Regions from separate parts of the Homo sapiens genome. Here region 1 is linked to region 2. Evidence: fine-mapped expression QTL. A gene starts in region 2. The other region holds a variant in brackets. All regions are shown on one strand. Distances are between the middles of the regions.

What was found. PIP is the estimated chance that this variant, and not a neighbour inherited with it, causes the effect. A credible set is the group of variants that fine-mapping cannot tell apart.
Region 1: its variant is the best candidate, but not a certain one, in a credible set for the expression of LINC02478 in sun-exposed skin (GTEx, PIP 0.56).

Annotation. Positions count from the first base shown.
Region 1 is chr2:160,229,919-160,235,300 of GRCh38, forward strand. No RefSeq gene overlaps it. Among named protein-coding and RNA genes, the nearest start is that of ITGB6, 32 kb to the left of the region's middle. RefSeq lists an enhancer at 540-709. The variant G/A (reference allele first, on the strand shown) is at 2,226.
Region 2 is chr2:160,268,971-160,274,352 of GRCh38, forward strand. It overlaps LINC02478 (long intergenic non-protein coding RNA 2478), which reads right to left and starts at 2,925. Exons shown (of 2, transcript NR_103775.1): 1 at 2,750-2,925. It overlaps RBMS1 (RNA binding motif single stranded interacting protein 1), which reads right to left. Exons shown (of 14, transcript NM_016836.4): 14 at 3,181-5,382. RefSeq lists an enhancer at 1,133-1,742.

The sequences.
Region 1 (5,382 bases), 39 kb before region 2:
ACAGATTGTAGTTATTTGAGCAAAGGAGAGGCAAAGTCACCAAATGGTAATGTATTTACCTGCCAGTCCTATATATTAATTTCCTCCACTGAAGAGGTTTGATTTCAGAGGGATTAACTCTTCTTTGGGGGGATTAAAAAATAATCTCAATAATCAAGAGATTTATTCAGCTCAGTGGTTCAATGGGTTTAAATCCAGAATGAGAACCCTAGAGATTGTCCAATTCTTAATTTACCTGGGCTGTTAATTTGCCACATGTGTGATCCTAGATATAATTATAAAGCCCCAGTTTCTTTTTTCTTTTTCACTTTTTTTTTTTTTAATTTTGCGATGCAGTCTTGCTCGGTTGCTCAGGCTGGAGTACAGTGGTGTGATCTCGGCTCACTGTAACCTCATCCTGAGTAGCTGGGATTATAGGCTCACGCCACCATGCCTAGCTAATTTTTTTGTATTTTTTTAGTAGAGACAGGGTTTTACCATGTTGGCCAGGCTGGTCTCCAACTCCTGACCTCAAATGACCTGCCTGCCTCGGCCTCCTAAAGTGCTGGGATTACAGGTGTGAGCCACTGCTCCTGGCTCCCAGTTTCTTCATCTTTAAAACATTTACCCAAATGTCTCAGAAAATGAAGTGTAAGATTTATATTCTCTCTCTTTTTCTCCATCTCTCTCTAACTAGGGTGGTGCCATGAATATCAAATACCCTATTTTCAAAGCTGTGATTGGCTCTGCCACTCACTACCTGTTGACTTTGTACAAGATGCTGAATTTCTAGAAGGCTGTTTCTTCTTCTTTAAAGCCTGGATAATAGTATGATTTGATAAAGGTATTATAAAGATGAAGACAGATAACATGTGCAAAGTGCCTAGCACAGAACTTGGCAATTCAATAAAATAAAGCTATTTTTCCTTTTGTTAAACTTGTATAGTTATTTACAGTTTATAAAGCATTTTCATGAACTTCATGATAACCTCTTAAGGTAGATGCAATTATCACCAGTTTTGGAGATAAGAAAACTGAGGCTAAGAAATACCACAGCCATGCTACAGCAGCAGACAGAGTCGTGCAGTCTATCAGGCCTATTTCAATGGCATTTACCCTCTGCTCTAGCTGTCTTTTGTGGTGGGACATGCAAACTAAAATGAAATAAATTGTATATTTATTACATACAATTCATAGTGAGCATTCAATAAATGTGGTTCGCTTCCGAATCTCATAAGGTAGCTAGTGAGGGCTCTAGGCAAAACTAGTAAGCTGGTCAATAATTTCTTAATTTTCTACCTCCGTGTGTCTGATATGGTAGCAACTACCAACATGTGGCTATGAGCACCTGAAATGTGGCTAGTCCAAATGGAGATGTGCTGCAAGTATAAAATACTCATTGAACTTTAGAGATTTCATGTAAAAATATGTAAAATACCTCACTGATAATTTTGAAAATCAATTACATAATGAAATGACAATATTTTGGTATGTTCAGTTAAATATTTCACCTGTTTCTTTTTACTTCCTCATAATGTGGCTACTAGAAAATGTTGAATTGCATATGTAGCTCACATTTGTGGCTTGTATTATATTTCTATTGGACAGAGCTACTTTATGTAACCCTTTGCCCTTCTAAAGGTGTTCCCTGGTCTCTTGGCCCTCCTCCTTCCTCACCAGGACTCCAAGATCCTCCTATCTGACGAATAGTGTTCTGCTCACCTACTTCATGCCAAGATGTTAATTTCTCTTTCTGCAGACAGTCTGCTTTTAGAAGAGGTACTGAAAGTGGAGGTTAATACACCTGGGTGTGGAAGAGATATTAAAGCAAGGATCAGAATTTCAAAAGTCTACAGGAGTCAGGATACTGTAAAGTAGACTAGGTGCAGCCTGCAATAGGGAGTGGTGCAGACTGTGGCAAACTGAAGAACACATGCCTCATTCAAAGGGAACAGCCACCACCAAACTCTAGCTAACTGTTGCCATATCAGAATTTGGGCCCAATGTGGCCAATCTTTTGATTTTTTTACGGGCAGCCAGAAATCTAGTTTCTTATGTGATGTCTTCTGATTTTCAAAGATTTGTGATGAAATACTTTCAACAAGCATTGTAAAGGGCCTATCAAATCTGCCCAGCGGTTCCATTTGGCCCACTTGGCCTCAGCTTCCTACCAAGGCTCACCTGGTGAGATGTGTGGTAATCTGGACAGGTAGTGCTTAAGACATTGGCTTTGGCTCTTGACATTT[G/A]TAGAGCTGGAAGAGTCCTGCTTTGTTATAGACAAGATACTAAGGCCCAGAGCAGACAAATGGCTCACTCTCAATCACACTATCACTCCCTTAGGCCAAGAATGCCAGACTCGGCTGGGCGCGGTGATTCATGCCTGTAATCTCAGCACTTTGGGAGGCCGAAGTGGGCGGATCACGAGGTTAGGAGTTCAAGACCAGCCTGGCCAACACAGTGAAATCCCATCTCTACTAAAAATACAAAAATTAGCTGGGCATGGGGGCCCGCGCCTGTAATCCTGGCTACTCAGGAAGCTGAGGCAGGAGAGTCACTTGAACCTGGTGGTGGAGGTTGCAGTGAGCCAAGATTGCACCATCGCACTCCAGCCCGAGCAGCAGAGCAAGACTCCGTCTCAAAAAAAAAAAGAATGCCAGACTCCTACTTTCTGTGACTTCAAAGTCACTGAGTCCTCAGTCTTTAAAACAACAGTCAGTAGGCAGCTATTGATTTGGCAAAAGAAAAACAACAACAACAACAGTCAATGTCTTCTGTCTGTCCCGAGGTTTGCCTCTGAGAAAGGCCCTTGGTGAGCTGGAACACTCTGCCAGGTGGGTAAGTCTTAGAGCAAAAGATGCTGTGTCCACACTGGTCTCTGGCTGGCTAGGGGAATGGTACAAATGGCTAATGTTCTTCATGAATTTCTCTCATACATCATATAACTTATTCTATAAGGACATATACTAATCATTTACAGAGTGAGCTGAAATCCCTATATAACCCAGGTGGAGAAAATCACCACACTGGTGAATACTCTTGTTATTTATGAGCAGGTGTACCTTCTAGACACCCGAGTTAGGCCCAGAGGGAGAAAGTTTCCTTAATCTGCAGTTGACATAAGATTTCTGTCTGTGTCATGCTCTCAATGTGTCTGTCCTCTTCCCAATTCTAAAGTGCAGATGGCCTAACCCAGACAGCAGAAAAAAAAATGCAGGTATGAAATTTAGCATTCTCTCAACACGGCATTTGTTCATTCTAGCCTCTCCTTTTGCAAATACATCTTTAGAGCTCTTAAGAATTAAACTACTTACTTATGTTATTGATAATGGTTCCAAAACAAATATCAGACTTTAAGTGATTTCAACCCTTCCTGCACAAACTCTGGGACTTTCCTAGGTGATGTAAGAGTACTGAGCTTTCTAGGTTATGGGAGCATTGCAGAGATAGGCAGAGTTAATTTTTTGATAATTTGTAATATCATGGCTTCTGGGGTTTTTAAGTCTTAGAGGCAATTTCTTTTCTATGAAGTGTCTTCAAAAGTTCACAAAAATTGCGTATTATGAAAAAAAACTGCATGCATTTCAATTTTTTTGCACCAAAATAAGCTCATATTAACTTGTTACAATATACCTGAAGATGATCTAGTTTAAGGGACTAGGAAGGATAAGACATATGCTGGGCAAGGTGATTCACACCTGTAATCCCAGAACTTTGGGAGGCTGAGGTGAGTGGCTCACTTGAGCTCAGGAGTTCAAGACCAGCCTGGGCAACATTGTGAAACCTTATCTCTACAAAAAATACAAAAATTAGCTGGGCATGGTGGTGTGCGCCTCTAGTTCCAGGTACTCGGGAGACTGAGGTGGGAGGATCACTGAGCCTGGAAGGCAGAGGTTGTCAGCCAACATCACATCACTGCATTCCAGCCTGGGTGACAGAGCAAGGGTCTGTCAAAAAAAAAGAAGAAGGATAAGACATAAATTCAAAGAGAGCACATATCAGAGCATCAAGAATTCTGCTAAAATTGAAGCAAGAACGAACATGAAATTTATGGCGAAGTTTGAGTGGAAGAATGGTGAAATCATTAATGATTTATGAAAAGTTTATGGAGACAATGCACCAAAGAAATCAGCAGTTTACAAATGGATAACTCATTTTAGGAAGGGTTGAGATAATGTTGAAGATGAAGCCCATGGCAGCAGACCATCCACATCAATTTGTAAGGAAAAAAATGTTGTTCATGCCCTAATTGAAGATGACCAATGATCAACAGCACAAACAATAGCAACACCACAGACATCTCAACTGGTTCAGCTTACACAATTCTGACTGAAAAATTAAAGTTGAACAAACTTTCCACCTGATGGGCACCAAAACCGTTGTACCCAGATCAGCTGCAGACAAGAGCAGAGCTTTCAATGAAAATGTTAAAACAAATGGGACCAAGATCCTGAAGCATCTCTTTTTGGAATGTAATGGGAGATGAAACACGGCTTTACCAATATGATCCTAAAGACACAACACAATCATAGCAATGGCTACCAAGAGGTGGATGTGGCCCAGTCAAAGCACAAGCAGACCAGTCAAAAGCAAAGGTCATGGCAACAGTCTTTGGGATGCTCAAGGCATTTTGCTTGTTGAGTTTCTGGAGGGCCAAAGGACGGCAAGGTCTCCTTAGTATGAGAGTGTTTTGAGAAAGTTAACCAAAGCTTTAGTAGAAAAATGCCCGGGAAAGCTTCACCAAAGAACCTCTCTCTATTATGACAATGCTCCTGCTCTTTCCTCTCATCAAACAAGGGCAATGTTGTGAGAGTTTCAGTAGGAAATCATTAGGCATCCACCGTATGGTCCTGATTTTGGCTCTTTCTGACTTCTTTTTGTTTCCTGACTTTAAAAATATTTTTTAAAGGGCACTCATTTTTCTTTAGTAGTAACTGAAGTATTAAACGTAAAAATGACTACATTGGCATGTTTAAGTTCCCAGGACTCTCAGTTCCTTAGGTATGAATTAAATGGCTGGTATCATCACTTATAAAAGTGTCTTGAACTTGATGGAGCTTATGTTTTCGTTTGTTTTGTTTTGTTTTGTTTGAGGCAAGGTCTCACTCTGTCACCCAGGTTGGAGTGCAGTGGCATGATCTCTGCCCACTGTAACCTCTGCCTCCCAGGCTCAAGTGATCCTCCCACCTCAGCCTCCCAAGTGGCTGGGACTATAGGCACACACCACCATGCCCAGCTATTTTATTTTTATTTTTTGTAGAGATAGGGTTTTGCCAAGTTGCCCAGGCTGGTCTCAAACTCCTGGGCTCAAGTGATCCACCTGCCTTAGCCTCCCAAAGTGCTGGGATTACAGGTGTGAGCCAGAAGCTTATGTTGAAAAACAAAGTTTATATTTTCTGTTTTTAT
Region 2 (5,382 bases):
GTCTCAAACTCGTGGCCTCAATCAATCCCCTGGCCTTGGTTCCCAGTGTTGAGATTACAGGCATAAGCCACTGTGCCCAGCCTCTCCTTGGGTTTTATACTTATTTCATAGTTTTGATCATACTGTATCTACAGGTCTGTTCCTAACACTTTTTATTCACGTTATATCCTAAGCATTTTCCATGTCATTAAAATGTCCTCATTTTAAAATGACTTCATATTATCTTGCATGTCTTTAGCGTAACTACTGTCATTTAAAAAATAAAGCAACATAGGGATTTTCACTGGCTACAAGTTCTAAGAATTGTGGTATGTCTGAGAAGTCAAAAAGGAACCGGCAGGGCAGGGGAGACAGGTGAAGTCCCAAGTTCTTCCTCCGGTTTTGGGTTTTATCCTGAGTCAACTGTGGTACATCTGGAAGGTGAGTTGATGATGTGGAGTGACCAGGGCTGACGAGGAAGAGTTAAAGCTGGAAGGAATGCTCAACCCAGAGAAGAGCAGAGCCATGGAGTCACGTTTCCACACTTGAAGTATGACTGACTGACTCTGTGGCATCCCGGTTGGCAGCACTAAGGCCGGTAAGTGGGAATTTCAAAGCCACAATTTGGACTCCTCTGCAAACAAGTTTGAGAGCTGTTCCCTAAAGCTACCTGATGCCCTGTGAGGCAGGCAGTGCCTGGTCCCTGGAGGTGTTCAAGTAGGGCAGGTGGCTTCAAGGATACTAGAGGATAGGAAATCCCTGCAGTCTGGTTTATGGTCTGGGTCCTGTGTGAGCACTGGAATAGCCTACATCAAATCTTAAGTCTCTCAGAGTCGCATAAAACAACCGAATTCTTTAATTCAAAGCCACGTTTTCAATTCTGAGCAGCCCAGAGACCTGCCATCGCTTTCTCGCGCCGAGTCACGTGGTCTGGCAAGGCGCGCGGTTTCCTCCCTAGCCGCCCCCAGCTGCCCTGAACCTTCAAAGTCACATTTCAGTCACTCCCCAGTCTGACCAACAACGCTCACAATGAGGGCGCTGCCAGCACAGGCGACGGCCTGCGCTCCAGTCTTACGAGGAACCCCAAATTCAAGACCCCTGTGACCCAGGCCTGTGTGCCCCGACAGGCTAAACCTCCGCCCAGGGGCTTCCCGATGTCGGCTGCAGCGGGTCTGGGTTTTCGGCCTGCAGAGCTCGCGTCTGACGGCTGAGGAACAAAACACCCTCCCTCTAGCGGCTCAAGCGCACACACCCTCTTGCCTTCCGCAGCCACCGAGCGAGTCACGGGAGACACTCTGGAGCCATTTTGCGGGGCTGGAATTCCTTCGCCCGGCGGAGCTCGGCGCGCACCCGTCAGCTGTGCCGAGGACCCTGCGCCCGGGGGGCCCCGCGGCCACGTGACCCCCATCTGGCTCTCGGCCTGGACTGAGGGGGCTGAGCTCATCGCGTTGCTATTCGAGGGGCAGAGACTGCCTGGCCTTCCTCAAATCCTGAGCTCCCGGCTCTCCTCCCTCCCCCACCTACTTGACATCTCAGGCTTTTTGTGGAAGGGGCAGGGCGATTGAGAGGTCGGTGACCTTTGTCCCAATGGCGCTGGCTCTTTTCCTTTTTGGCTACCCTAATGGAATGAGGATATAATCAGTCATATCTTAACATTCATTGAGCCCCGGCTCAGGCTGGGAGGCACTGCCTTTCTCCTAGTGAATTTTAAATCAGTATTTGTGGGATTTAAGCTCCAGCGGATAAACCTAGAGCCACTGGCCATGAAGGGTGTGGCAGTGGGGTGAAAAACGGGACTCCCGCCTCCACTCCCTGGCTTTCCTCATTCCAGCCACTATAGAGGGGAAAATACGTAGACCACAGAGCAACGGCCACACCCTCTTTCCTCTCCTCCAACCCCAGAATTCCACTTCAGTCTCAGAGCTTTCAGCTAGGTGGGGTTTATCCCCAAACATGCCACAACCCCTCTAGTTATATGGGAGCGGTAACTGTGAACCACCATCGCTGGCTTGATCCTCCCTTTTCCGTGGATTGGTGCTCCTGAGTATGTTTACCGGTTTCAGTACATAACACAGCCAGATAGAGGGCCGCGGACTTCAGCGGCGAGAAGCTACAACAAAAATAGGGTGAACAAAAACGAAGGTGCCCAGGAGCCTGAATTGCATTTCTTTCTTACCTTTGGTCATAGAAAGGAGCACTTAGGTGTTTGGCTGGAACGCAAAGTGAGACCAGAGCTTACATTCTTAGCAGCCTGGGTTTGTCTCGAGAGGCCATGCTTCTCTCCTCCCTGACATTTTGCTCTCAGAAGCACCAGTTAGCATCAGAGGAATGTTGTTTCCTTCTCTGAAACAGCCATCAAGTACCAGCGATTTCTTGGCTCCGGCAAGTTAAGTGCTCTGACCCCTCCCTTATCTAACTCACCCCGCACACCATCCACATGGCAGGGGACGCAGCCAGAAATGGAGCGGACTGCATCTTTTCCTTGCCCACTCTTTTTATCACCATGACAGAGCCACTGGACACCAGGAAATAAATACTGAACCACCACACTAAAACGTTTACTCCACTTTGGGCAGAAGGAGCCTATTTTGCATATTAAGTGCCTCCTATAAAGCAGTCAAGTGAGGGAAAGAGGAGTTCTCGCTCCTCCGTGAATGCTGCACGGGAGCCTCCAGTCGGGAACAGCTGAACAGGTAGCTCTGAAAGAGGACCTTGGTCATAAACGCATAGATAAGATTATCCCGAGGTTCTCGCCCACATGCTTCCTTACCACAGGTGGGAGGGCTGCTGTTAGGCTGTCTTCCTTGCTGAGCATTGACAAGCAATGAAATAGTTGAGGCGTAGCAGCAAGAAAGGAGGAAGAAAAAGGGCCTGGTTTTTTGGTCTTTAAGAACAGACCACTAGTGGTGTATTTTGGGCTGGATATTTGCTGAGCCGACCGTTGACGTGCTGAGCTGACGGTTGACGTGCTGAGCTGAGGGTTGACGTCTCTGGTCATTACACAGATTTAAATAACCAGCAAAAGTGGGGTGGAAAGGTTTTTCCAATTGTTTTCAAGGAAATGTATTTTGAGGATATATTGAATCTGACATAACTTTCAACTCACTTTCAAACCAATCTACTGAGCTGAAGAAAGAGATCAGAAATGAAATGAAATTCTGATATACACTTAATCGACTTAAAAAAAATTGACAGGAAAAATAAAATTTCAGATGTTTTTTATTCAAAGGTTCTCAAAAGAAATAAAACAGAAAAGCTAACAATCTGATCAAATGTACAGTTCAAAAATGTCTTTTGGCGTTTAACAACAAGTCCTAGGAAAGAAAACTACAGAGTTATCTTGAACCGGACAAATAAGTTACCACTGGCAAGTCTGTGGCACTAGTAAAACAAAAATAAAAAATTAACTCTCTTGATCATATAGATATCTCTATGAAAATCTTTTTTTTTCAATCTGTACAAAAGGTCTTTCTTCATAAATTAATTTTTTTATAATTTAATGGCTGTCTACTATGTGATGTTTAACTGATTTTTTTTTTTTTATGTACAGAGGTTATGTTTCCCAAATCTTACCCAGACGAGTATGGCACTTAGTTCAGACATTTCTAGCAGCAGATTTCCCCTCCCCTCTAACCGAGCTATCAAATTTCTGTCTTAACTAATGCAAAAATATCAAGTAGTGAGAGACCCAGGTTTATAACTGTACTAGGTACACAGAGGGTGCTGCGTTCAGTCTGGACTTTCACAAAGCAGTAATATTCCAGGGAGCATAGAACCAATAATACCACAACTTTAAAAAAATGAAACAAAAACAAAAACAAAAACACATTTCTCTTATGACTATGTAATTTTCACTAGAATCTACACTTCTCAGAGCAGCAAGGACTTTTGAAACTATGAAATGTCACTGACATCTATCATCAAATACAAGCATAAAATTTAAGAACTAAAAAATACTTGAAAGAAATAACTGCTTAGCCCTAGCTCCTGAGCTAGGAGGATTTGGTCTGTGGAAACAGGGAGGGCCAGCAACCTGTCCCAGCACAAAAGAAAATAGACTCTGAGGTAGATAACTGATCATACACAGCTGACCAGACAAGTACACAGTTTTGGAAGACAACTTAATTTACCATTGCTTTTAAAACATATGCAATTGCCTTAATAAAAGAGCTTTAATAACAGTGAATTATCTTATATGTACTAAAGTAGAAATAACTGTGTATTTATGAATCAGGAATTTCATAGTTTCAAAATTGGTTTTCTTTACACTTGAACACTTGTAGTGATGATGTAAAGTGTGGCACTGCTTGGATCCAAATCTTCCTTCATGCTTTTTTGTTTGTGTGTGTCCATACATCAATTAAAATTATAAAACCTAAATGCAAAGGTACAAAAAAGGCACATTCTCCTAACCGCAAACTGGTCCGGCAAAAATAAAGAGCACAGAAGATGTGATGCTGAGACAAGTTGGAGCTACTGGTTACTGGCTCTTCGGTCTTTGGTGAAGTTACCTTTAAAAGTGCCAAGTCATTTTTATTTTTCAAATTTACCTAATAGAGAGAGAGAGAGAGAGCTAGTAGCCAATCGTTTTGCTTCTATTCGTTATCTCAGCTTATGTTTGAAGATAAATCCTTACTTTTAGCTTTTGCCACTTTGTTGCAATAGCAACATTTTTCGGTTTGCCAGATTTCAGGCATAATTCTCATTCTAAAGCACTATCATTAGTATAAAGGAAGGACAAAACATTCAGTGACTCCCCTCCCCCACCCCCATCCCCAACCCCAACACTACCTACACTAAATCTAGTACATCAAGTTAGCTTTTTTTTTTTCCTGAAAAAAGGCAAAAAAGACTTTACATTGCATCATACAGCAGATATCCTAAATCAGTCAAACTATCAGAGGAAACTGTTGGCGTACAGCCTTACAAACAATTTACCCTAATAAAAGTTCCCCAGTCAGAAAATGTGTTTCACACAAAACATTTTTCCCTTCTTGCATTTCACTACCTTACACATTATGTGAAAAATCATTAAAAACACCTACTACATATTTAAAAAAGCCAAAATTTCAGCAACTTTTATTGACTACCTTTTAAAAGCCCTATGCTGCTGTTTTACAAGGCATAATAGACCAGCTCATTTGGTCAAAGCATTCTACATCATTAGTTTGAACTAACTTTTACTGAAACAGCTACAGCATCAAAAGAGTTAAGGCAAATTGGAATTCATAGAAAAGGATAAGACACTTCACACTACGTTGAAAGAAAGACAGAAAGCTAAGAAAAGAGACACTGACGGCAACACTGAATTACAGCAACACTCGCACTGCAAGCACAGAACACCATGGGTGAAGTCGGACTATTTAAACTTCAGAAAGCCCATTTCATACAGCTGGAAAAAAA